Homo sapiens: one gene and its partners. The protein of the gene in region 1 interacts with the protein of each later gene in a biochemical or structural test. Each region holds a gene or a part of one and is shown in the gene's direction. Other genes may lie near its edges.

What was found. Proteins that work in one complex are often made in the same cells at the same time.
Region 2: the proteins of SPN (region 1) and SIGLEC1 form a complex in vitro, tested with the Homo sapiens proteins (one large-scale study listed by IntAct).
Region 3: the proteins of SPN (region 1) and EZR form a complex in vitro, tested with the Homo sapiens proteins (one study listed by BioGRID).
Region 4: the proteins of SPN (region 1) and ICAM1 form a complex in vitro, tested with the Homo sapiens proteins (one large-scale study listed by IntAct).

Annotation. Positions count from the first base shown.
Region 1 is NC_000016.10:29,667,815-29,671,910, forward strand, and holds the end of SPN (leukosialin precursor), read left to right. Parts: 3' UTR 1-3,062; downstream 3,063-4,096. UniProt on the Homo sapiens protein: Predominant cell surface sialoprotein of leukocytes which regulates multiple T-cell functions, including T-cell activation, proliferation, differentiation, trafficking and migration.
Region 2 is NC_000020.11:3,690,844-3,696,216, reverse strand, and holds part of SIGLEC1 (sialoadhesin isoform 1 precursor), read left to right. Parts: intron 1-1,293; coding exon 1,294-1,554; intron 1,555-1,684; coding exon 1,685-1,996; intron 1,997-2,518; coding exon 2,519-2,770; intron 2,771-3,085; coding exon 3,086-3,355; intron 3,356-3,444; coding exon 3,445-3,696; intron 3,697-4,014; coding exon 4,015-4,314; intron 4,315-4,616; coding exon 4,617-4,877; intron 4,878-5,373. UniProt on the Homo sapiens protein: Macrophage-restricted adhesion molecule that mediates sialic-acid dependent binding to lymphocytes, including granulocytes, monocytes, natural killer cells, B-cells and CD8 T-cells.
Region 3 is NC_000006.12:158,769,612-158,774,984, reverse strand, and holds part of EZR (ezrin), read left to right. Parts: intron 1-3,577; coding exon 3,578-3,741; intron 3,742-4,090; coding exon 4,091-4,221; intron 4,222-5,040; coding exon 5,041-5,201; intron 5,202-5,373. UniProt on the Homo sapiens protein: Probably involved in connections of major cytoskeletal structures to the plasma membrane. In epithelial cells, required for the formation of microvilli and membrane ruffles on the apical pole. Along with PLEKHG6, required for normal macropinocytosis.
Region 4 is NC_000019.10:10,273,504-10,278,876, forward strand, and holds part of ICAM1 (intercellular adhesion molecule 1 precursor), read left to right. Parts: intron 1-1,261; coding exon 1,262-1,525; intron 1,526-5,373. UniProt on the Homo sapiens protein: ICAM proteins are ligands for the leukocyte adhesion protein LFA-1 (integrin alpha-L/beta-2).

The DNA of each region.
Region 1 (4,096 bases):
ACAGTGTTATGAATGCACCAAGGAAAATGGTGCATTCATAACTCTCAGGTGAAGCCTACCAAGCCATGCGTGTGTGCACATATGTGTGTACGTGTGCATGTGCGTGCGTGCATGTGCGTGCGTGCATGTGCCTGTGTGTGTATGTGTGCACATGTGTGTGCGCATGTGTGTGTGTGCGCGCATGTGTGTGTGCATGCATGTTCTCCCATGCATGTGTACTGTGGCAAGGGAGACTTTGAGGAAGAGATTCCAGTGGCTGAGCAGAAGGGCTCGCATTGCCCTGGCGAAAGGTTGGAAGGCTTCACCTGAGAGTGTGTCGTGGCCTTTGTCATATCCACTGCTTGATTCCTTTCTTTAAAAATTATTTTTATTGTTTTCTACATATGAGAACCACCACACCTGGCTAATTTTTGTATTTTTTGTAGAGATGGGGTTTCACCATGTTGTCCCGGCTGGTCTCAAACTCCCGGGCACAAGAGATCCACCTGCCTCAGCCTCCCAAAATGCTGGGACTATAGGCATGAGCCACTGCACCCAGCCACTGCTTCATTCCTGGTGGCTGCTGTGCCTGGCATGTTGCAGATCCTCCATGAATATGCATTTGAATGAATGAATGAATGAATGAATGAATGAATGGAGATGACGCCTCAGAGATTCTTTCTTTTGAGATGAGGTCTCATTCTGTCACCCAGACTAGAGGGCAGTGGTGCAATCACAGCTCACCACAGCCTCAACCTCCTGGGCCTCCCAAGTAGCTGCGATCACAGGTGTGCACCAACATGCCCAGCTAATTTTTTTTTTTAATTTTTAATTTGTACAGACAGGGTCTTGCTGTGTTGCCCAGGCTGGTCTCAAACTCCTGGGCTCAAGTGGTCCTCCCACCTAAGCTTCCCCAAATACTGGGATTATAGGTGTGAGCCACTGTGCCCAGGCTTGCCTCAGATATTTGAAGGCTGGGAAGGATTTTGCAAAGCTGGGAAAAGGAAAAGGCATTCCCAGCAGAGGGGATAGCAGGTGGAAATACATAATTAAAAAAAAAAAACGTGGAGCAGATCCAGCGCAGTGGCTCATGCCTGTAATCCCAGCACTTTGGGAGGCAGAGCAGGGAGGATTGCTTGAGTCTAGGAGTTCAAGACCAGCCTGGGTAACATAGAAAGACCCTGTCTCTACAAAAACACAAAAAATTAGCCAGGCGTGGTGGTGCATGCCTGTAGTACCAGCTACTTGAGAAGCTGAGGCAGGAGGACTGCTTGAAGCCAGGAGTTTGAGACCAGCCTGGGCAACATAGTGAGACCCCGTGTCTACAAAAAGTAAACATTTATATATATATTTTTTAAAGTGGAGCAGTTCAATATAGAGTCTTTTTTGAACAAACGTGAAATAGATGTCTTTTTTTTTTTTTTGAGATGGAGTTTTCACTCTTGTTACCCAGGCTGGAGTGCAATGGCGTGATCTTGGCTCACCAGAACCTCCGCCTCCTGGGTTCAAACAATTCTCCTGCCTCAGCCTCCCAGGTAGCTGGGATTACAGGCATGCACCACCAAACCCGGATAATTTTGTATTTTTAGTAGAGATGGGGTTTCACCATGTTGGTCAAGCTGGTCTTGAACTCCCGACCTCTGCTGATCCGTATGCCTCGGCCTCCCAAAGTGCTGGGATTACATGCGTGAGCCACCGTGCCCGACAATAGATGTCTTTTAATTTTCTGGAGGAAAAAGCAAAGCAAAAGAAGCAGTGGATATTTTAAGACTAAAAAGGAAAACAAAAAAAGGAGATAGAGCAGGCCAGACGTGGTGGCTCAACGTCTGTAATCCCAGCACTTTGGGAGGCCGAGGCAGGTGGATCACCTGAGGTCAGGAGTTCAAGACCAGCCTGACCAACATGGTGAAACCCTGTTTCAAAATACAAAAAATTAGCTGGGCGTGGTGGCGGGCACCTGTAATCCCAGCTACTTGGGAGGCTGAGGCAGGAGAATCCCTTGAACCCAGGAGGTGGAGGTTGCAGTGAGCCGAGATCACGCCATTGCACTCCAGCCTGGGCGACAAGTAAAAAACTCCATCTCAAAAAAAAAAAAGGAGATAGAGCAAGGAACAGTAAGAAAATAGTTGGGTGCAGTGGCTATGCGGTGGCACTATAGGAGGCTGAGGCGGGCAGATCACCTGAGGTCAGGAGTTGGAGACCAGCCTGGGCAACATAGACCCCTATCTCTACAAAAAATTTGAAATATGAAAAATTAGCCAGGTGTAGTGGTGTGCGCCTGTGGTACCAGCTACTCAAGAGGCGAAGGCAGGGAAGATTGCTTGAGCCCAGGAGTTTGAGGCTATAGTGAGCTGTGATCATGCCACTGCACTCCAGCCTGGGCAATAGTGTGAGACTCTGTCTCAAAAGAAAGAACATGGCCAGGCGTGGTGGCTCACACCTGTAATCCCAGCACTTTGGGAGGCCGAGGCAGTCAGATCATGAGGCCAGTTTGAAACCAGCCTGGCCAACATGGTGAAACCCTGTCTCTACTAAAAATACAAAAATTAGCCAGGCGTGGTGGCATGCCCCCGTAATCCCAGCTACTTGGGGGTCTGAGGCAGAAGAATTGCTTGAAACCGGGAGGCAGAGGTTGCAGTGAGCCGAGATCGTGTCATTGCACTCTAGTCTGGGCGACAGAGCAAGACTCCGTCTTGGAAAAAAATTTAAAAAAAGAAAATATAAAATATGGTATAAGATTAAATATATTAGTTATGAAAATAATTGTAAATGGCTTATTGAACTTATAGTCAGTAAAAATCATGTTTTTGAAAATTATGTAATGACTTTGGAAAATACCAGCAATATAATGTTAAGTGGGGAAAAAAGCAAGTTACTCCTCTGTAATACATATGATTTTAGTTTTGTAATAAAAATTCCCAACCATATATGCACTTATAGGGAAACAAAGGACCCATCGCAAATGTTTTCCATGCTGATCTCCAAAGTGGTGAGTTTATGTGTGATTTTTATTTTGTTTATGCTCTTCTGTATTTTCCGAATTTCATACAATAAATATCTGTTACTTTTACAATATGAAAAAATAGTGGTCAAAAAGGTGTTCAAGGGGGTGGCCTGGGGGTGTCTGGTTTGAGGAGAGTGGTAGGGGATGAGGCTGCAAGTGGAGGTTGGAGCCATGCTATGAAAAGTTCAAGAGTTTGAATTGAGTTCTGAGGTTTGTTTTTGTTTTTGTTTTTGTTTTTTGAGACGGAGTCTCACCCTGTCACCCAGGCTGGAGTGCAGTGGCACGGGTTCATGCCATTCTCCTGCCTCAGCCTCCTGAGTAGCTGGAACCACACGCGCCCGCCACCACACCAGGCTAATTTTTTTGTATTTTTAGGAGAGACAGGGTTTCACCATGTTAGCCAGGATGGTCTCGATCTCCTGACCTCGTGATCCACCTGCCTCGGCCTCCCAAAGTGCTGGGATTACAGGCGTGAGCCACAGTGCTCTGCGTGAGCCATAGTGCTCTGCTGAGAGTTTGAATTGCATTCTGGAAGTAGTGGTGAAATCAACACACCTAAGTCTGCTCTTCTCCTCTCTTCTAGTCCCCAGAGTGGTGAGTAGCATCGTTCTGGTGGCCCAGGCAAAACGCCTTAGGACCACCGTGCAGCCCCACTCTTTCCCCATTCCTGCTCTCCAGGTGCCAAGTCCCTGGCTCTTCTTCCACCGACCCTTGCATCCCTTCCTTCTCTTCAGTCCTCATCGCACCTCACCGGGATCCTATTGACACTTCCCCTTTGATTTCCTTCCGCTCTCTGCTAGTGATGGTCCCAGGGACCCTTCTAAAAGGTCACTGTGGGCTGGGCACAGTGGCTCACGCCTGTAATCCCAACACTTTGAGAGGCTGAGGTGGGCCAATCATCTGAGGTCAGGAGTTCGAGACCAGCCTGGCCAACATGGTGAAACCCCATCTCTACTGAAAGTACAAAAATTAGCCGGGCGTGGTGGTGTGCACCTGTAGTCCCAGCTACTCGGGAGGCTGAGGCGGGGGAATTGTTGGTCCCCGGGAGATGGAGGTTGCAGTGAGCCAAGATCGCGCCGTTGCACTCCAGCCTGGGTGACAGAATGAGACTCC
Region 2 (5,373 bases), on another chromosome or scaffold:
TGTATTCTTATGCATAATATATTCATATTCTTTATTTATATACACATACGTGTGTGTGTGTGTGTGTGTGTGTGTTTGTGTGTGTGTATATATATAGTCTCTATAAAAATCCTCCCTCAGGCCGGGCACCATGGCTCATGCCTGTAATCCCAGCACTTTGGGAGGCTGAGGCGGGCGGATCACTTGAGGTCAGGAGTTCAAGACCAGCCTGGCCAACACTCTACTAAAAATACAAAAATTAGCTAGGTGTGGTGGTGGGCATTTGTAATCCCAGTTACTCGGGAGGCTAAGGCAGGCGAATCGTTTGAACCTGGGAGATGGAGGTTGCAGTGAGCCAAAATTGTACTTCACTCTAGCCTGGATGACAGAGTGAGACTCTGTCTTAAAAAAAAAAAAATTCTCCCTAAACAAATAAACCAGGAAAAAGGAAAGATAATGCCCATAATGCGAAGGTCAAAGGAACATGAGTGTTTCTTCCACCACGGTGACCGACAGCACCAATTTTGGGACATTTACTTTGAGCCTTGGTTCTGTGTATCTTTTCTTACTTAGCATACCTATTTCGCAGGAAGAAATTGAAGGTTTGAGTTTTAGGAGCTTTTCCCCAGTTGCATGACCCTGCTAGCTGTGGTCTCAGGCATGGTCTGTGTTCTTGCTTAGCATTCCAGCTGTCCCTCCATCTCACTCCCTGCAACCTGGGGTTCTCCTGCTTCACACCCAGGGGCCACTGAGGAGCTGCCCTTTGCCTGGTCCCCAGGTCCTGTGCTCTTGTGGCCTGGAGTCTGGATGCAGGGCTGGCCTGGCGAGAGCGCTCAAGATAACATAGCTGCTAACATTCCCTTCCAAGCCCTCGGTCACCCATGCTGAGTCCAGATCCTAGTTAGGACAATGGCCCCGGGATGATCTAAATCCCTCCCTTTTCAGTACTTTATGGGTTGAACCAACATTTGTCAGGAGCTAACACATGCAGGCACAGTGCCTGGAACTGGGGTTACAGGTCACACAAGTCCAGTGCCCATAAGGCTTACGCTTTGGTAGGCGAGATATGACTGACACAGTAAAACCATCCCACCAGGTGGTGGGAGGTAAATGCCAGGATGGAGCCTGTGCAGGAGAGTGGGGAGCAGGAGGGGCCAAGGCATAGGGCTGAGTGGGCCCTGGCGGTGGTCTGGAAGGGGCTGCGGCTCCAGCACATGGGGTTGGGTTGTGTAGTCCTAGGTGGACACGCACATGGTCCCAGACTGTGAGAGGTGTGGTGGAGAGCCCTCACCTGCTCTTGGTTTTCCCCTGCAGGAGCCTGGGTCCAGGTGTCACCATCACCTGAGCTCCAAGAGGGCCAGGCTGTGGTCCTGAGCTGCCAGGTACACACAGGAGTCCCAGAGGGGACCTCATATCGTTGGTATCGGGATGGCCAGCCCCTCCAGGAGTCGACCTCGGCCACGCTCCGCTTTGCAGCCATAACTTTGACACAAGCTGGGGCCTATCATTGCCAAGCCCAGGCCCCAGGCTCAGCCACCACGAGCCTAGCTGCACCCATCAGCCTCCACGTGTCCTGTAAGGACTTTTGTCCCATCCAGGTGTGGGGGAAGGAATGCAGTCCCCCAGTCCTGGGCTGTGTCACATGACAGAGCCCTGGATGAGGGACCCCCCTGGCTGGGTCCTGACCACTCCCCACCCTGTGTAGATGCCCCACGCCACGTCACACTCACTACCCTGATGGACACAGGCCCTGGACGACTGGGCCTCCTCCTGTGCCGTGTGGACAGTGACCCTCCGGCCCAGCTGCGGCTGCTCCACGGGGATCGCCTTGTGGCCTCCACCCTACAAGGTGTGGGGGGACCCGAAGGCAGCTCTCCCAGGCTGCATGTGGCTGTGGCCCCCAACACACTGCGTCTGGAGATCCACGGGGCTATGCTGGAGGATGAGGGTGTCTATATCTGTGAGGCCTCCAACACCCTGGGCCAGGCCTCGGCCTCAGCTGACTTCGACGCTCAAGGTCAGTGTGTGTGTGTGTGTGTGTGTGTGTGTGTGTGTGTGTGTGTCCTTTAAAAGAGGAGAGGAGGTGGGACAGGGTTCTAGAAGCCTGGGGGCACGGGAATAGTCCCCATTCCCACCCTTCCTAACGATGGTGGACTCCAGACTTGAGTTTCTTAGGAGAACCTTTTATAAACACCAAATTTTACAAGTATGCCCAGTGGATAAAACTAAACAGGGAATTTCAGGAGAAAGTGCAGCAGGGGAGGGGAGGTCTGTGGTCTCCCCATTTGCCCCCAGCCAGGGTCAGGGAGGGGCTCAGGGCTTTCCAGGACTCTGTGGAACTCTACTTGGGACCACTCAGGAGCCAGTGGGCTATTCCCAAGCTTGACTTCTAAGCCACATTTATAGGTGGGCCACCCAAGGCTCCCAAAGGCCAAGGGGCTCCCCAGCAGTAGGAGTAGCTCACCCACATGGAGACAGGTGGCCTGCTGTACACAGCCTCAAGACCCTCACTGGTGTCCTGTGCCCTCCCTCTCCCCAGCTGTGAATGTGCAGGTGTGGCCCGGGGCTACCGTGCGGGAGGGGCAGCTGGTGAACCTGACCTGCCTTGTGTGGACCACTCACCCGGCCCAGCTCACCTACACATGGTACCAGGATGGGCAGCAGCGCCTGGATGCCCACTCCATCCCCCTGCCCAACGTCACAGTCAGGGATGCCACCTCCTACCGCTGCGGTGTGGGCCCCCCTGGTCGGGCACCCCGCCTCTCCAGACCTATCACCTTGGACGTCCTCTGTGAGTCTGGCTGGATGCAGGGTGGGACTCACAGGAATGACAGAAGCCCACAGGGATCACGGCATGGCCGGAACCCGACAGGTGTCCAGTGGGGAACTCGGTACCCAGTAGCTAGTGGAGCACTGGGCAAGGAGCATTAAGAGTAGGGGGCGCTGGGGTGAGTCCTGTCTGGGCAGAGGAGCAGTGCCTCAGACTGGGTGGTTGGGAGCCATAGGGGTGGGGAGCCAGGGCCCTCCTGAGTTTGAATGCCACCTGCAAACTGGCCTCCTGCAGGCTGCTGCCTGTGACTCCGTGTAAGCCTCTCATGCCCTGCAGACGCGCCCCGCAACCTGCGCCTGACCTACCTCCTGGAGAGCCATGGCGGGCAGCTGGCCCTGGTACTGTGCACTGTGGACAGCCGCCCGCCCGCCCAGCTGGCCCTCAGCCACGCCGGTCGCCTCTTGGCCTCCTCGACAGCAGCCTCTGTCCCCAACACCCTGCGCCTGGAGCTGCGAGGGCCACAGCCCAGGGATGAGGGTTTCTACAGCTGCTCTGCCCGCAGCCCTCTGGGCCAGGCCAACACGTCCCTGGAGCTGCGGCTGGAGGGTAAGGCAGGGCCTAGGCCAAGCCCACTGGGATGGAAGCCCACTGTGGTGTCCGGCTGGGCCCGGCTGATCCTGGCCTCCTTGGCACAGGTGTGCGGGTGATCCTGGCTCCGGAGGCTGCCGTGCCTGAAGGTGCCCCCATCACAGTGACCTGTGCGGACCCTGCTGCCCACGCACCCACACTCTATACTTGGTACCACAACGGTCGTTGGCTGCAGGAGGGTCCAGCTGCCTCACTCTCATTCCTGGTGGCCACGCGGGCTCATGCAGGCGCCTACTCTTGCCAGGCCCAGGATGCCCAGGGCACCCGCAGCTCCCGTCCTGCTGCCCTGCAAGTCCTCTGTGAGCAGAGGGTCCTTGGCCAGGGCTGCCCAGGAGGAGGGTGGTGGAGGGTGCTTCTGGGCTCTGGTGGGAGTGGGCAAAGGACTGCAGTGGGCCCAGGAATGGGCAGTTGGGGAAAGAGGACATAGGTGCTAGAGAAAGAGACAGTCCTATAAGCCCTGCCTGGAGCACTCTGCCCACAGGACTCCTGGGAAGGTGTCACTTCTAGGAAGTGGCCATTGGTCCAGAGGCCTCAGCCTGACCAACCCCAGGCAGCTAGGCAATGAGCAGTACAGGGTGCCTAAGCAAGGTCCCCATCTGTGCCCTGCCTGCCCACAGATGCCCCTCAGGACGCTGTCCTGTCCTCCTTCCGGGACTCCAGGGCCAGATCCATGGCTGTGATACAGTGCACTGTGGACAGTGAGCCACCTGCTGAGCTGGCCCTATCTCATGATGGCAAGGTGCTGGCCACGAGCAGCGGGGTCCACAGCTTGGCATCAGGGACAGGCCATGTCCAGGTGGCCCGAAACGCCCTACGGCTGCAGGTGCAAGATGTGCCTGCAGGTGATGACACCTATGTTTGCACAGCCCAAAACTTGCTGGGCTCAATCAGCACCATCGGGCGGTTGCAGGTAGAAGGTGAGTGGAAGAGAGGGGAGGAGGAGGGGCTCTGATGCTCTCAGGTCCAAGTCCACGAGAGGGGCTGGAGCTCCCACTAGAGCGGGCTGTCTGGTCTGAGAAAGCTCTGCCTTGAGAAGCCTAATCTGGTGGAGGGGGCACAGCTCCCACTGGAGGGGGCATGGTTCCACCTTGGAAAGCCCTATACCAAGTCAGACTGAGACCTTCCCACAATGTGCAGAGGCCCCTCAGAGGTCCCACCCAGAGGCTCCAGCCCCCAAGGCCTACAGATCCCCAATCATCTCTCTATCCTCCGCCCGCAGGTGCACGCGTGGTGGCAGAGCCTGGCCTGGACGTGCCTGAGGGCGCTGCCCTGAACCTCAGCTGCCGCCTCCTGGGTGGCCCTGGGCCTGTGGGCAACTCCACCTTTGCATGGTTCTGGAATGACCGGCGGCTGCACGCGGAGCCTGTGCCCACTCTCGCCTTCACCCACGTGGCTCGTGCTCAAGCTGGGATGTACCACTGCCTGGCTGAGCTCCCCACTGGGGCTGCTGCCTCTGCTCCAGTCATGCTCCGTGTGCTCTGTGAGTGTGAACCCCCTCCTCCGCCTTAGTCTCCCCACATCTCACACGCCCACCTCAGTTCTTCCTCCTCTTCTGTCTGCCAAGAGTGAAGGCTTCACGGATATTGAGTCCTGGGTTGGAATCCTGGCTCTCCCGCTGTCTGGTTGGGTGACCTTGTAAAATGGGGAATACATCATTCGCCTCATCCTGCAAGTTGTATAAGAAATAAATGGCTGGTGCAGGGGCTTATGCCTGTAATCCCAGCACTTTGAGAGGCTGAGGTGGGCGGATCACTTGAGGTCAGGAGTTCAAGACTAGCCTGGTCAATATGGCGAAACTCCGTCTCTACTAAAAATACAAGAATTAGCACGGCATGAAGGCACACACCTGTAATCCCAGCTATTCAGGAGGCTGAGGCAGGAGACTCACTTGAGCCTGGGAGGTGGAGGTTGCAGTGAGCCAAGATCACCACAACGCACTCCAGCCTGGGTGACAGACTGAGACTCTGTCTCAAGAA
Region 3 (5,373 bases), on another chromosome or scaffold:
CGGTTATTTAAAATTAAACGCGTATTGAATGCAGACTCTAAGGCTCCATGGCAGCAGTTCATATTATGCAACAGCATGAATGGAGGGTCATAGCGTCTTCATGTCACTTGGGTAGTAAGATTGGCACAGTTTAGAAGAGCAAGAAAATGCTGAAATCTCTTCATCAGTAGGCTACTACGTACTCTGTGACGCTACTGCCTTTTCAGAACACTTATTAAAAATTTGACTAGAGCAGCAGCTCTGGACTAGACTGTTTCAGAATGTTTGTGCGTGTGTGTGTGTGTGTGTGTGTGTGTGTGTGTGTGTGTGTGTTTGATGATAAGTCCATCTCTTGAAAAGCTGAAGAATATTTTCATAATAAGCCCCAAGCAGAAGCCATTGTAACGCATCTCGTGCATGTGCCTTTATTATAGAGTAGCCTCATGTGAAGCCATCTCGTAAGCAAAAGAAACATTCGCTGGTGGCACGCTGTCCCAGGCACTCTTCCAGGGCTGTGTGCACCATCAACAAGGCAAAGCTCCTACCCTGGTGAGCCTACATTTACGTGAAGGAAAGGGTTAAAAAGGCAACTGAGATGCTTCCTGGTAGTAAATTTAACAGTACAGCTGTGATTAAAAACTAAGCCGGATCAGAAGATGGGGGTGAGATTCCTTTAGGCAGGTTGGGCAGGAGCCACACTGAGGAGGCAGCATTTGCCTTGAGTGGGCACTGCTGGTTTGAGGAGGTGGAGTTCTGTCACCCCCACAGCACCCCAGGGCTGCTCGAGGCACTGCCCCACCTCAGTCTGTAAACTTTGGGCAGAAGAAGTTCAAGTTTTCGACATCGAACTTTCTTGTAAAAAAGAAGAGGCCCAAAGTTTGAGGCGGTGGGATTCCTTATCTTGTGTTGACTTTCACGGGTCATCTTCACCCCAGGCGGTTTCTGCTGTGAACTCACAAATGAGTCTTTGTCCAGTTCTCACCCAACAACTGGCGTCTCCTTTTTAAAAGCCAGCTTCTCTTCCCTGCCAAGGTGCATACAGCAGTTTGGGGCCACACTTTGGCTCTTTAGATGGGACCTTGTATACAGCTGACACGGCCTGCCCAGGTGACACTATGAGGGGCTGAGGCGGCTGCCTTTTCCCTTTCAAAAGGGCGTTTTGTTCCTGTGGCCTTGTGGAAAAGGCAGAAGGCTCTGAGGCATCTGAAATTTGGAGAAAGTAAGCAGCGTTTCCGCTCTGACTCCTCGGACGCTTCCCCCACGTGACCTTCCCAGGAGCCCCGCTGCCTTTTTGCCTCCCGCGGCTGCCTCCTGCCATCTCTGCGGCCAGATGAGCCTTGGGATTGGCCTCTTGTGGGAGAGTTTCCTGGCATCCTGGGGACTTGAAAAGGGGCTCTTTTACCTTCTCTCCTTCTGTATTTGTAGGGTCTTGGGTTTATTTTTCTTGAACTTTCCTTGTGCCTGGTTTGCATTTTTACCTTGCTGGTCCTCGGCCAGTTTAAAAACCCTGCTCCAGGTCTTGTCGTGTTGTGGTTCTGCATCAGGAAGCTGCATCCTGCATCAGGTTAGGGACTTGGATTTAGAAACATTTCAGTATGAGTCTTTGTTTTAACTTGAAGTGAGAAACCGGCTTCCTTCAAAGGCACTGGGAGAGATTTCCTGCCAGGCACCATCCTCCCTCACCCACTGGCAGTGGACTCCCCAAATTCTGGTTCCCGTTGCTGGCAGGACCTGTCTTCTGCAGGGAAAGGGAGAGAGGGAGACATTGTTATGTTAACCATTGAGGTTTTTCATTGATCCCCCCACCCATGCACCCCCACAACCCCATAAAGGGGAGTTGGTGCTAATCAGCGTTTTCTGAGTCAGGGCCTATTTGGTAGAGTCCTCCAAAGCTGTAATGCAGGATTGTTTCCTCTTGTGTAATAAGGGATAGGTGGGTCATAAAAATGCCGATTGCTCCCAGCTCCACAGACTCCTCCCTGGGAAACCCAATGACTTAACAGCAAGGGTGTGAAACCCCAAAGACAGCCCCACCCAGGAAGTTCATGGGCTCTCAGGGCTTGGCATCACCTCTCACCCTAGGATTTCTGGAACAGATGAAAAGACTGAAGCTAAATAGATTCTTCTCGGATGTGTTGATGAGCCCGCTCAGCCGGTTCCTCGTTAGGTCTCAGAAGTTGCTGTGGGATATATCGCACTGTTTTTTTGTTTTAGCCACCCTGTCCCTCTGTTCCAAATGGTCAGAAGCTGGATGCTGGGGGCCCTGAGGTTAAGAGGAAGCCAACAGAGTCACTGAAAAATAACTTTTCATGGGAGTTTCTAAACCATATTCTTCTGTCTTGTAAGCTAATCACAGCAGTAGCAAGGAGTTGGGACCAAGATTGTCAGCTGTGTCCCAAATGTTTCCAGTCATGGTCACGAGTTTCCCGAAGGCTGTGATTCTGCCTTGTTTTCCAGGAGGCTCCTCTGGTTGTGGTCTTGCAAGGCACTAGCAATTGGAGTGACCGCTGTGTGTGTCAGCCAGCTCTTCCTGCGCCGAGCACCTCCTGAACGTCACCGATAAGGCGGGGACGCCAGCATCTAATGGGACTGCTGGGAGGATTGAGTCCCATATCTGAAGTCCCTTGAGATACCGGCATCCCTGCCTTATGGTTGAAGGCACTGAGCCTGGTGAAGGGATGTGCTCAAGGCTGTGGAGCTCGCACGTGGCTGTCTGTGCTGCACGAGCTGGCAGTGCCTGGCAGGTACTGCACACCTCAAATACCCTGGGAAGATAAGAGATGAGTGAATGTGTGGCCCCTGCCCTTGGGAGCTGATGGCCTCATAGGAGTGAGATGCTGAAAGGAGTCACTGGAGTGAAGTGACAGTGCCACTGCGGCGAGTACCTGTAGCTGGTGTGGCAGGAGCAGGGCTGGATAGCTTTGAGGAGAGAGAACCGAGTGCACAGCGGAGGCTGGGCCCAGAGCTGGAAGGTCTCTGTGTGGGTTGGGCCCAGGCCCTGGAGCTCATCCTGGAGCTCCCAGGCTGGCAGTGATGGGTCGGGGTGGTGACCCAGTCAGTGTAGCAATAACAGTGTGGGAGGGGAGGCTGTGGCAGAGGAGACAGGAAGCCCAAATAGCAGCAGAGGCAGTCCAGGCAAGCATCGGGGATGGGGAGCAGCAGTGAGGCTGGAGAGGACATCATGAAAGGTGGCTACCTGGAAGAGCAGGCAGCTCTGAGACTTGAAAGGTTTCCCAAGGCTGAGAGTTCTCACCTTGGAAAAGCTTTGCAGTTAACGTGCAGTGGCATTTCAGTGTGCATGCAGGATGTCCCTACCCACACACAACTGCACACACACGCGGCACCTGCCCTTCCTCCACCCGTCCCAGAGAATGCACTTTCCCAGTGCTACATACCCACACATAACCGCACACACACGCGGCACGTGCCCTTCCTCCATCTGTCCTGGAGAATGCACATTCCTAGTGCCGAGATGCTGCCATCCCTGTTCTGCTACATTTGTTCTTTTAGAAAAGTTCTGGACCTTTGTGAAGGATGGTTTGGAGAAGAAAACCAAACGAAGGAGCTTGAGTCCAGGTGGCCCTGTTCTGTTTTGTAGGACTTTGTGTTTTATGCCCCACGTCTGAGAATCAACAAGCGGATCCTGCAGCTCTGCATGGGCAACCATGAGTTGTATATGCGCCGCAGGAAGCCTGACACCATCGAGGTGCAGCAGATGAAGGCCCAGGCCCGGGAGGAGAAGCATCAGAAGCAGCTGGAGCGGTGAGCGCGTGAGGCCAGAGTGGGGGGGGCCTGTGTTCTCCCAACTCAGCCACTGGCAGCCAGTGCCTGTCAGGTGACTGTGGAGCTGATGGGGAGAGTGTGGTGGAATGGAACCCAGTCACCACGCTGGGATCTTCGAGGCCTTTGTCTCTGGGCGGTTGCTGTGGTGCTGAGCCTGTTGTCAGCCCTGGAGCGGCTGCTCCGTCAGGCAGCTCAGGCTGGCAGCAGGCTAGGGTGGCCCTCAGGATACCAAGTCCATCCTGGAGCTTCAAGTACCCGTGAAGTGTGTTGACCCCTCACTTTCCTGCCAGAGTCTAAATCTCCCTGTGCCTCTTTTTCCCTGCACCAGGCAACAGCTGGAAACAGAGAAGAAAAGGAGAGAAACCGTGGAGAGAGAGAAAGAGCAGATGATGCGCGAGAAGGAGGAGTTGATGCTGCGGCTGCAGGACTATGAGGAGAAGACAAAGAAGGCAGAGAGAGGTCAGGCGCCCTGGGGCTGGCACTCTACACTGGGTCATGCATTTCCACAGAGTAGCAGGGGCCACACCCACCCACCCACTCACCAGGAAGGAAACCAAGAACGTGTCCCACAGCGCAGACTCACAGCCGAAATGATAAAATGGTTATTTGGTTTGGAAAACAGTTCTGTACTTATTTAACTTTGATGCTAGTTGTTCTAAGACTTTGTATTTTAAAATTTCCCTAGTCTTTTGCGGTAAGTGCTCAATCACCCAGTTTCCCCGATGAGGACAGTAAGGTTTGGTGCGGTACAGTGATTTGCCCACAGTCCCCCAGCCCATGACTGACAGGGCCATGCTGCACTGCCCTCGACCTCTAGACTAAAACCCAAAGGCGTGTTCAGAGCCAGACTTCCCAGCACAGCTCCAGTCAACAACCCCAGCAGCTGGGCCGATTACACAAGGCGCCACAGATGCTGTATTCACTGGCAGCCCTTACAGCACACATGGGAAGGGTGTTCTGTGTTCTGAGTGGAGTGTGGACCACCAGCACAGCGGGCGGCTGACCTGGGGAGAGTAGCGCCAAGAGGGTTGAGTCAGGCATGCCAGAGAGAGGGCGCCTGGCTGGCGTTGGACGGGTTTCTAGCCATCTTGAGGAAGTTGTCATGGATACAGCAGCAATGAGCTCTGTGAAGTGCTTTCCTCCAGGGTCACTGGAAGACATCCCCTCAACCTGTGACTTGGTCTAGGGCTCTGTGGCTTTGGGGGTGGGAATGGAAAGCGAGGGCTCCTAGGTCCCTGGGCTGAGGGTTTGAATGGCTCTGGCTTTGTGTCTTTGCAGAGCTCTCGGAGCAGATTCAGAGGGCCCTGCAGCTGGAGGAGGAGAGGAAGCGGGCACAGGAGGAGGCCGAGCGCCTAGAGGCTGACCGTATGGCTGCACTGCGGGCTAAGGAGGAGCTGGAGAGACAGGCGGTGGATCAGATAAAGAGCCAGGAGCAGCTGGTAGGAATGGCCTGAGTTTCAAGATGCTGAATTATAGAGAGGCTGCTTCTGAGGATGGAAAATGTGACACCTGCCTTGTAATAATTGTCATGACTGGAAGCTGTAAACTGATCTGCTGGGGGGCTGAAGGCAGCTGGTGGGGAAGGGGCTGGGCTGTTGCCAGGGTCACCCA
Region 4 (5,373 bases), on another chromosome or scaffold:
AATGTTTTTCAAATATTAGCCGGGTATGGTGGTGTCCTGTAGTCCCAGCTACTTGGGAGGCTGAGATGGGAGGATCACTTGAGCCCAGGAGTTCAAGGTTACAGTGAGCTATGATTGTGCCACTGTATTCCAGCCTGGGTAACAGAGGGAGACCCGTTTAAAAAAAAAAAAGTGATGGCTAAAGTCCTTCCATGGCTCCCTATTGCCCTCAGTATAAAGAACACATGTGGCTGGGCGTGGTGGTTCACGCCTGTAATCCCAGCACTTTGGGAGGCTGAGGCGGGCGGATCACTTGAGGCCAGGAGTTTGAGAGCAGGCTGGCCGACGTGGCGAAACCCCGTCTCTATTAAAAATACAAAAATTAGCTGGGCGTGGTGGTGCTTGCCTGTAATCCCAGATACTCTGGAGGCTGAGGCAGGAGAATCACTTGAACCCGGGAGGCAAAGGTTGCAGTGAGCTGAGATTGCGCCACTGCACTCCAGTCTGAGTGACAAAGCGAGACTCCATCTCAAAAAAAAAAAAAATAAAAGAACACATCTTTAGCATGGCCTTCAGTGCTCACGGGATCTTCCTGAATTAATCTCCCCCTCTTCATCCTTGCTCACTCAGCTCCAGCCACCCTGCCCCGGGACATCTGTACTTGCCTGGAACTTATTTCCCTTTTCTCCGGACAGCCAGCCCTTTCTCGTCATTTAGATCTCTGCTGAAACATTACCCTGTCACCAAAGCACTGTCTATTCTATCACCCTGTTTTGTTTTTGTCAAAGCTCATATTAACATCAGTTATTAATTATCTTGTTTGCTCATAATTTTTTTTTTTTTTTTTTTGGAGACAGAGTCTCGTTCTGTTGCTCAGGCTGGAGTGCAGTGGCACAATCTTGGCTCACTGTAACCTCCACCTCCCAGGTTCAAGTGATTCTTGTGCCTCAGCCTCCCAAATAGCTAGGACTACAGGCACGTCCCACCATGCCCAGCTAATTTTTGTATTTTTAGTGGAGACGGGGCTTTGTCATGTTGGCCAGGCTGATCTCAAATTCCTGACCTCAAGTGATCTGCCCGCCTTGGCCTCCCAAAGTGCTGGGATTACAGGCGTGAGCCACCACACCCGGCCTGCTCATGAATTTTCTCTTTAACTTCCACATCGAAGGCAAAGTATTGTCTTGTTAAGGCTGTGCCTCCAGCACCCAGCACAGGCTGGGCGCACATTCCCTTGATGAACCTGATTTGTAATGCCTGTCGCCTCTTCCCTCGTTTCTTCTAGGACCTGGCAATGCCCAGACATCTGTGTCCCCCTCAAAAGTCATCCTGCCCCGGGGAGGCTCCGTGCTGGTGACATGCAGCACCTCCTGTGACCAGCCCAAGTTGTTGGGCATAGAGACCCCGTTGCCTAAAAAGGAGTTGCTCCTGCCTGGGAACAACCGGAAGGTGTATGAACTGAGCAATGTGCAAGAAGATAGCCAACCAATGTGCTATTCAAACTGCCCTGATGGGCAGTCAACAGCTAAAACCTTCCTCACCGTGTACTGTGAGTAACTGAGCCCGGAGGGCTGGACTAGGCAGACCCGGTGGGAGAGACGTGCAGGGGCACCTGCAGAGGCCTGGGGGAATCTTTGCCACTTGCTCGTAGGGTCAAGGAGGGGCTCCTTGCAGGGCAGGTGGGGACATCCTTGGAAAGTCCCTTTGTGAATTTCTTTGGGTACAATTAAAGTATTTACAGGCTGGGTGCGGTGGCTCATGCCTGTAATCCCAGCACTTTGAGAGGCTGAGGCTGGCGGATCACCTGAGATCAGGAGTTTAAGTTTCGCCAACATGGCGAAACCCTGTCTCTGCTGAAAATACAAAAATCAGCCGGGCATGGTGTCAAGCGCCTGTAATCCCAGCTACTTGGAAGGCTGAGGCAGGAGAACGCTTGAACCTGAGAGGCAGAGATTGCAGTGAGCCGCGATCGTGCCAGTGCACTCCAGTCTGGATAACAGAGCAAGATTCCATCTCAAGAAAAAAAAAATGCCATCTCTCTATGCCTCACTCTTTGAACATATGACACGGTCCTGCTTCAGACACTTTAATAAAAGATGCAAATTAAGCCAAGTGTGGTGGCTTGTACCTATAATCCCAACTACTCCAGAGGCTGAGGCAGAAGGATGGTTTGAGCCCAGGAGTTTGAGACCAGCCTGGGCAACAGAGTGAGACCCTGTTTCTTTCTTTTTTTTTTTTTTTTTTTTGAGACGGAGTCTCACTCTGTCGCCCAGGCTGGAGTGCAGTGGTGTGATCTCGGCTCACTGCAAGCTCCGCCTCCCGGGTTCACGCCATTCTCCTGCCTCAGCCTCCCGAGTAGCTGGGACTACAGGCGCCTGCCACCATGCCCGGCTCATTTTTTTGTATTTTTAGTAGAGACGGGGTTTCACTGTGTTAGCCAGGATGGTCTCAATCTCCTGACCTAGTGGTCCGCCCGCCTCGGCCTCCCAAAGTGCTGGGATTACAGGTGTAAGCCACTGTGCCCATCCAAGACCCTGTTTCTACCGGAAAAAAAAAGTAAATAATTTAGCTGGGCATCGTGGTGTGCACCTGTAATCCCAGCTGCTCCTGAGGCTGTGATGGGAGGATTGCTTTAACCCAGGGGTTCGAATCCTAGGAGTTCGAATCCATCCTAGGCAACATAGCAAAACCCCATTTTTATTTAAAAAAAAAAAAAAAGATATGAGTTAAAACTAGCCCTGGGATGGCATTTTTCACATATTGGTAACAAACAAAAGAATTGATGGCCGGGCGCAGTGGCTCACGCCTGTAATCCCAGCACTTTGGGAGGCCGAGGCGGGCGGATCACAAGGTCAGGAGATCGAGACCATCCTGGCTAACATGGTGAAACCCCGTCTCTACTAAAACTACAAAAAATTAGCCGGGCATGGTGGCAGGCGCCTGTGGTCCCAGCTACTCAGGAGGCTGAGGCAGGAGAATGGCATGAACCCGGGAGGCAGAGCTTGCAGTGAGCCAAGATCGTGCCACTGCACTCCAGCCTGGGCGACAGAGCAAGACTCCATCTCAAAAAAAAAAAAAAAAAAAAGAATTGATAACAGCTGTGCTGCCAAGGCTATTGGAACGTAGGAGGTCCTAGGACAGTGCTGTTGGGAGCATAAATAAGCCCAACCCTGTGGCGGGAAATTGGGCATCAGTTCTCAAAATGTCATGGGCTGGGCACGGTGGCTCACGCCTGTAATCCCAGCACTTTGGGAGGCTGAGGGAGGCGGATCACTTGAGGTCAGGAGTTCGAGACCAGCCTGACCACCATGGAGAAACCCCGTCTCTATTAAAAATACAAAAAAAACTAGCCAGGCATAGTGGCACATACCTGTAATCCCAGCTACTCGGGAGGCTGAGGCAGGAGAATCTCTTGAAACTGGGAGGCAGAGGTTGCGGTGAGCTGAGATTGCGCCACTGCACTCCAGCTTGGGCAACAAGAGCAAAACTCCATCTCAAAAAAAAAAAAAAAAGAAATAAAAGAAGGTATGTTGAATATGAGTGGTATGCCACCCTCACATTAGGGAAGGGCAGTTTCGGGGAGGCTGTATTTATGTATAAAATAGCCCTAAAAGGAAGTGGGAGAAATGACAATATTAGCTGGCTATGAGAAGAGAGGCTGGGAGGCTGTGGGAGAGGGCTTGGGTGTGGAGAATTCTTTTTGTTTTTTCCTTTTTTTGAGACAGAGTTTCACTCTTGTTGCCCAGGCTGGAGTGCAATGGCACGATCTCAGCTCACCGCAACCTTCACCTCCTGAGTTTAAGTGATTCTCCGGCCTCAGCCTCCCGACTAGCTGGGATTACAGGCATGGGCCACTACGCCTGGCAAATTTTGTATTTTTAGTAGAGACAGGGTTTCTCCATGTTGGTCAGGCTGGTCTTGAACTCTGACCTCAGGTGATCCGCCCGCCTCGGCCTCCCAAAGTGCTGGGATTACAACGTGAGCCACTTTGCCTGGCTGAGAATTCTTTTTTTGTTGTTGTCTTTTTGAGATGGAGTTTTGCTGTGTCCCCAGCCTGGAGTGCAATGGTGTAATCTCAGCTCACTGCAACCTCTCCCTCCCGGGTTCAAGCAATTCTCCTGCCTCAGCCTCCCAAGTAGCTGGAATTACAGGCGCCCAGCACCACGCCCGGCTAATTTTTGTATTTTTAGTAGAGACGGGATTTCATCATGTTGGCCAGGCTGGTCTTGATCTCCTGACCTTGTGATCTGCCCGCCTCGGCCTCCCAAAGTGCTGGGATTACAGGCGTGAGCCACTGCCCCCAGCCGAGAATTTCTCTTTGCGTCCTTCCTACTTTGGGGACTTCGAATGGTGGGAAAGAGTTATCAAGGCCAAAATAAGGAATTCAAATGAAAACAAAACAAAATCAAAGAAGAAAAAACAGAAGAGCACTGGGCAGGCTAGGCACGTGGCTCATGCCTATAATCCCAGTGATTTAGAAGGCCGAAGTAGAAGGATCGCTTGGAGGCCAGGAGTTGGACACCAGCCTGGGCAACATAGCAAGACCCCATATCTACAAAAAATAAAAAACCTAACCAAGCGTGCTGGCATACTAGTAGTCCCAGCTACTCAGGAGGCTGAGGTGGGAGGATCACCTGAGCCTGGGAGGTCCAGGCTGTAGTGAGCCGTGATGACACCACTGCACTCCAGCCTGGGTGACAGAGAAAGACCCTGTCTCTAAAAAATAAAAACTGGCCAAGTAGCTTTGGGATTAGCCTTGGGTTCCAGTCCCAGCAAGGCCTTTAATAGCTTGGGACATGACTTCTGCATTTACTTTGCAATCAGGTGAGACCTCCTCTGATGGGGAAAATGACACGGTGAGTGACAAAGGATGTTCTCCTATCATTGTGTCAGGGCAAGGAAGCCTCTGGGTAAATGATCAAATGATCAGCTTTGCTTCTGATTTGGAGGGTGGGTGAGCAGATGCTGACCTTCCCAGGTGAGGGAAGTCCCCGAACATTCCCAGCAGCTTCTGGAAACCCCAGGGAAACCTCTTTGAAGGTCTTTTCTGCATCTCTGCCTGATAGGTCTTTTTTTTTTTTTTTTTTTTTTTCTTTTTTTTGACACACAGTCTTGCTCTGTCGCCCAGGCTGGATCACTGCAACCTCCATCTCCCGGGTTCAAGCAGTTCTCCTGCCTCATCCTCTCCAGTAGCTGGGATTACAGGCACCTGGCACCACGCCTGGCTAATTTTTGTATTTTTAGTAGAGACAGGGTTTCGCCAAGTTGGCCAGGCTGGTCTCGAACTCTAGACCTCTGGTGATCCACCCGCCTCAGCCTCCCGAAGTGCTGGGATTACAGGCTTGAGCCACCACGCGCGGCTCTGCCTGATAGCTGAGAGCATAGAACTCCAGGTTT